2 separate regions of the Homo sapiens genome follow, and region 1 is linked to region 2. The links come from fine-mapping of genetic effects on gene expression. A gene starts in region 2. The other region holds a variant in brackets. All regions are shown on one strand. Distances are from middle to middle. Region 1 overlaps LINC01386 (long intergenic non-protein coding RNA 1386). Region 2 holds the start of BTF3 (basic transcription factor 3).

Region 1 (2,910 bases), 37 kb after region 2:
TGGGATTATAAGCATGAGCTACTGCAACTTGTCATGTACTGTGTTCAACACTGAAAGAAAATCTTCCTGACCACTTCAGGGCCTGCAGAGTAACAAAACACTCAGCAGCCTGGTTGAGTACAATAATATCCAATGGCTCTTACAAAGGAGACTTAAACTGCTTGATAAAGGACCACACTGCATATTCCCATAAAACCAGTTTATTCTAATTCAATCCAGCCCTGATGAAGTGGCATCATTTGTCTGGGGTAATACCTGAGGTTTGTTGCCTTATGCCAAGGAAATCAAGGATGTGGACACACAAGGAGTGAGGTTAAGAGCAGAGGTTTAACAGGCAAAAGAAAGAGAAAAACTCTTGAGGAGGCAGTATCTGATTTACATAGGGCCCAAAAGATTGGTTGGACCAGGTGTGCCATTTACATAGCGGGCAAAGAAGCTGGCCACCCCACCGTAATCTATATTATTTGAATGGGTTCTCTACTTGGCCAGCGCCATGTTGCCTGCTTCTTTATTGCACATGTGGTTGACAAAGAAAAGAGAAGATGGAGTCTCCATGTTGAACATGCCTGGCCCCCAGGTAGCCTTTTCTTACTGGCACAGCTGCTGGCATTCACCCATGCAAGCTTTCAGCTTGCTTATCTATGTCTGCAGCTGCCCTTTGTTAGAAAATAAATGATTTGGGGACTGCTTTTTATTAAAAGGGAAATCTTGCCGAGGACTCTTTTACCCTCACTAACTGCCTAAATAATTTCATTCTAGCTCCTGTATCACTGGGTTAGGTTTTGAGAATGCTGAGGTGAAGATGACATGGAGCCTGCCTTCAAATAGATCACACTTTAGCAGAGGAGATAGGTAGGTGAGCAAGTATTAATGTAACTGCCCAAGAGGTTTACCTTGCCTGCTGCCTAGACAGAGCCAATTCCTTAAGACAGGGGAATTGCAATAGAAAAAGAGTAATTCACACAGAGCCAGCCGGCGGGGAGACCAGAGTTTTATTATTACTTAAATCAGTTTCCCCAAGCATTTGGGAAGCAGAGTTTTTAAGGATAACTTGGTGGGTGAGAGGAAGCCAGTGAGCCAGGAGTGCTGATTGGTCAGAGATGAATCATATGGAATTGGAGCTGTCTTCTTTTGCTCAGTCAGTTCCTAGGTGGAGGCCACAAGATCAGATGAGCCAGTTTATTGATCTGTGTGGGGCCAGCTGATCCATCAAGTGCAGGGTCTGCCAAATATCTCAAGCGCTGATCTTTGGAGCAGTTTAGGGAGGGTCAGAATCTTGTAGCCTTCGGCTGCATGACTCCTAAACCATAATTTCTAATCTTGTGGCTAATGTTAGTCCTACAAAGGCAATCCAGTCCCAGGTAAGAAGGAGGACTGCTTTGGGAAAGGGCTATTACCCTTACTAACTTCTCCCAAAGTTAGTTAAGCCTACACCTAGGAATGAACAAGGATAGCTTGGGGGTTAGAAGCAAGATGGAGTTGGTTAAGTTAGATTTCTTTCACTGTCTCAGTCATAATTTTGTAAAGGCGGTTTCATTAATATATTTCCACACTGGGTGCTGACTGCTGTGGAACGAGGTGCAGTCGGAATTCAGAGCAGGTGGAGGTGAGGTCATCAGGGAAGGCTTTCTGGAAGCAGACACTAGGGCTGAATTTTGGAAGGAAAATAAGTTGTTCAGTAGTCAAAGTATGCAAAGGGTGTTCCAGGCAAGGGCCCAGAGGAGGGAGGCAGTATGTCTAGCGTTGTGAGCT[A/G]TTGGTTGTTCAATATTGCAGGTAGGTAATCATGACGTGCAAAATAGTAGGAGATGCAATTGTAGAGTCAAGCAGAGGTGAGGCCCTTTTTATGCTAAGCTTCAGGAACTTGAATTTTAGCACACAGATTGGTAGTAATCAGACTTAAATGATCACCCAAATTACCTGGGGAACTTCCAAAAAAACCAAAAGCAACAACAACAACAAAACAAACAAAGCAAAATAAATTCCTGAGCCCCACCTGTAGAGATTCTAATTCAGTAGGTCTGTGGTGAGCCTGGCCTGGTGATGTGTGCATCCCAGCTGAGCAGCAGGACTTGGGGGAAGGCTGACCAGTGAAAAGAGGCTAGGGAAGTCGAAGCAGCAAGGGTGATAAATACTCCAAAGGCAATTGGAGATTAGTCTACTGGATTGTAGGATAACTGGGTCTCTTCAACTCACTTTTAAAAGGAATTTTTAGGGTTTAGAGAGGGCAAAAAGATATTGGCTTTTGTGTAATCTTTATTCAATGATTGATGTTACAGAAAATTTGCTGCAAGCACTGGGGCAATAAGATGTTACCAATACCTTTCTGGGTTTGGTGGGAGCCCCACCCAGGTTTAAAGTTTATTTTGCACAAGATTCATCTCAAGTAGTAACAATAATGGCAATAAATAAAGCATAATCATATTTATTGTTATAGCAAGTACTTATTAACATTTGTTTCTCCTAAAATTTGATAATAATACATGTTTAATCTACTTTGCACATAAAATAAAACTAACAGGCACGAATTCCTCTGAGTGAAGACAAGATTGGTCAAGGTTGAACTACAGCAACTAATAGCGAATGTCTACTACAAATAAGTAAATTAGCGAAGGATCTTAAAGTAGAGCAAATCCTTGGGCCAAAAATAATGATTTGCAGAAAGCACTGGTTTTTGAAGCACAGACTTGAATTGCCTTGGGAAAGAGTCAGTCATAGATTTTTCCAGGTGTCTTGTCTGGAACCAGACAGTTGGTATATGAGCTTTTTTGCTCACTGTAAAAATATAAAACACAGTCTGGGAGACATAGTGAGTCATTGTCTTTACAAAAAAAAAAAAAAAAAAAAACAAAGAAAAAGAAAAGAAAATGAGTCGAGTGTGATGGCACATTCCTGTAGTCCCACCTACTTTGA
Region 2 (2,910 bases):
CAAAATGTACCCGTATCTTCAAATACCCTTGAAATATGCAACTACCCTAAAGAATATTTAGTTCAGAAAGCAGTACAGAAAGGTCTCAATTTACAAGAGAGACAAACAAGCACTGACTTTAGAAAACTCAGGCCAAAACAAGTCAAGGGTATGATGTGCACAACGATCTAACTGAAATGACACATTTTCCTTACTAATTAAATTAGGAAACACTTTTGTGTTCTACTTACACTCTGTAACACTGAAAACACAAACATGTTTACACAAAGGCGATGTTTTTAGCTCGTCTCACTGATGTGTCTCCAACCCTCGTCTCCCCCGCTCCTCGAGATTTGCTAGCTCCGTGAATTTCCCTCGATAGGCAAAGTTTGTCACCGATAATATAAGAAGCGCAAAAGGAATATGTTTTTTAAAATACCTAAACCTTAAAAAAAAAACCCACAAACCCGAACTATTAAAACTTACTTTCCCACCAATGCGCACTTGTGCCTGCAGTTTGGCGAGTTTTTCCTGGTTCATGATTGTTTCTTTCATCTAGAAAAAGAGGAAATCCTCAGCAAGGATAGGTTTAGCTCACTCTAGCATTCCATGCTCGTTATTTCCCAAGATACCAGCAGGAAAATAAACGTCCTACACAGGCCGAAACCTGGATCCCAAATCCACCCCGCAAAGCTCCAAATTTGGGTTTCCAGGGAGCCCAAAGAGCACCCGCCTCCCCACCACTCCCCCACAGCTCCCCGCTCTTGGCAGGCCCGGATGAAAGGCTCTACCCCACGCCTGGCCAGCACCCCCCACCCCTGGCCCTGGCCTGGCCTCGGCCTAGCCAGGGCCTGCCCGGCCCGGCCACTCTCCGCAAGCCTCGCGGTACCTGAGGCTCCTGTCCTCGGGTTCCGCCGCGAGGTGGAGGTTGAGACAGCGTCGCCTCGCCCCCAGGGCAGCCGCCCCTGGCTCGACCTCGCCCCCGAGAGTCAGCCTGAGCGGGTGCGCCTGTCCGTCGCATCGCCTTCCTCTCCTCCTCTGCCCTGTCCCTCCCTGTCTCGCTCCTTCAGGGAACTTCCCGCCCCCGCTCCCGTCCTCCTACCACGCCGCCGTCCAGAGCCTTTTTGTACCTTGTCGGAGCGAATAAGGGGCCGCGCGGGGGACTAGGGTTGGTGCTCAAGGGGTCTCGGGTGGACCACCTGAGATTAGGCGCACACACGCGGGGACGCAAGATGGCAGCTAAAGGGAGGCCGGAAGTGACACAAGGCCACTTCCTTCAAGAGTCAGGAAACTGACTTCGCCGCGAACTCGGTTCCTCCCTGCGCACGCGCGACAGCGTTTGTGATGGTCCAGCGAGTCCCTATTCTCCTCCTCCTGCTCCAGCGGCTGCCGGCTGTAGGCCCTACGAGAGACTGCTGGCTTGGGGCGCAGCCCGTACCTCTGGGAGAGGCCACAAAGGGGTCGGAGAGCGCGGTCCTGTGCACAGTTAGGGTTAAGTCCGCTCAGTCTCCATTGGGCCCTGATCCTGAAGTTCTGTGCCCTCCGAAGAAAGGGCCTATTCACGTTTCCTGGAGACGCCGGAGGTGCCCAGCTTGTGCTCACCACTCAAGCAGCTCTCCCCTTGCTGGAGGTGTGGGTTGGAGAATTGCAGAATTTCCCTCTCGGCCCGAATGAGCCATTACCAAAGCATTTTGTCAAAAATAGTGAAGTTAGTTTGGCCTTCCAAGGTTAGGTGGTGTGGTAGATTGCGGGACCGAGGTTCAGAATTTCTGGGGGCTGTATCCCCGAGCCCCACTCCTCAGAATGCAACTCTGTACGACGAAGGAACTGGGTAATCCGCATTTCAGCCAATTTAGCAGATGACTAACCACCTTAAAACGGTCCACACAATTATCTTGTTTATCAGGCAAAAAAATTGACTCCTAGGTACCGAATTGGCATGGATTTGACAATTAGCGATTCACGGTTAAGCAGACTTTATCTATCTTAATCCAATCAAAGGAGAATTTCTGCCTGCTGTGTTTGGAGAGACAACGCGTGGATGTGAGTTAAACTTTGTTAAACCCAGGACAAGCTTTAAGATAAAACGACTGATATTTAAAATGGCAATTTAAATAAAAATGTTCTCTGATCAGCCTTTTTGTGGTCTTAACCATGAAATGTCTTTGCATATTCAAAAGTGAGTCCGAAATCTTAGAATGCAATGTGTGTAGCAAGAAAACTTGTTCAAGTGCAGACCCCTCTCCAGTTAAGATCAATGTTTAAACTTTTTGAATACTTTTTACATATAAGTTTGTTGCAACTGATGTCTCAAGAACATAACTGGTGAGGACAGCTGTATTGCCTTTTAGAATAATTGTTACAGTTATATTTACAAAAAACAATGTTGCTTCAGTTAAATATGAGTGAAGTTTTAGTACAGGTAAGGGTGTTTGTAGTTAGGCTTATGTGGGTTACCTTCCTAATGACAAAGGCCAAAATGGCAGTACCAACATTATGCTGTGCTCTGGAGATATTACAAAATATATAGAAAGACTCCCCCTTTTGGAAGAAATGTGTATCTTTGTCCAGGAACAGTTTTTTTCCTCTCCTCCATGTTATATTGGAGGCATTTGAAACTTCCTAGTCACGTGATGTTTTCTGAGCTTTTATAGAGACAAGATTGTATGTATGTAACCTGCCACCTTTTTTTTCTTTTTCTTTGCCTTCCCTCTCCTCTGCCCTTTTAATACACCTGTTTTCAGGAAATATTGTGAGCTACTTTTATTTATTTATTTATTTCTACTTTTTGAAACCAGGGATGCTGCTAATTTTATTTTTATAATTTTTTTAAAAAATATAAAACTTTAAAAAAATTAAAAGAGATGGGGTCTCACTTTGTTGCTTAGGCTGGGCTCAAACTCCTGCGCTCAAAGGATCCTTCAGTCTCAG

Evidence for each region. PIP is the estimated chance that this variant, and not a neighbour inherited with it, causes the effect. A credible set is the group of variants that fine-mapping cannot tell apart.
Region 1: its variant is the best candidate, but not a certain one, in a credible set for the expression of BTF3 in thyroid (GTEx, PIP 0.86).

What each region holds. Positions count from the first base shown.
Region 1 is chr5:73,459,475-73,462,384 of GRCh38, reverse strand. LINC01386 (long intergenic non-protein coding RNA 1386) reads left to right here. Exons shown (of 5, transcript NR_126410.1): 4 at 760-852. Among named protein-coding and RNA genes, the nearest start is that of LINC01386, 12 kb to the left of the region's middle. The variant A/G (reference allele first, on the strand shown) is at 1,753.
Region 2 is chr5:73,496,758-73,499,667 of GRCh38, reverse strand. It overlaps BTF3 (basic transcription factor 3), which reads right to left and starts at 1,226. Exons shown (of 6, transcript NM_001037637.2): 1 at 869-1,226; 2 at 466-534. The coding sequence starts at 1,000. BTF3-DT (BTF3 divergent transcript) reads left to right here and starts at 1,348. Exons shown (of 1, transcript NR_186388.1): 1 at 1,348-2,115. RefSeq lists a silencer at 742-791 and enhancers at 428-1,238, 1,002-1,301, 1,332-1,391.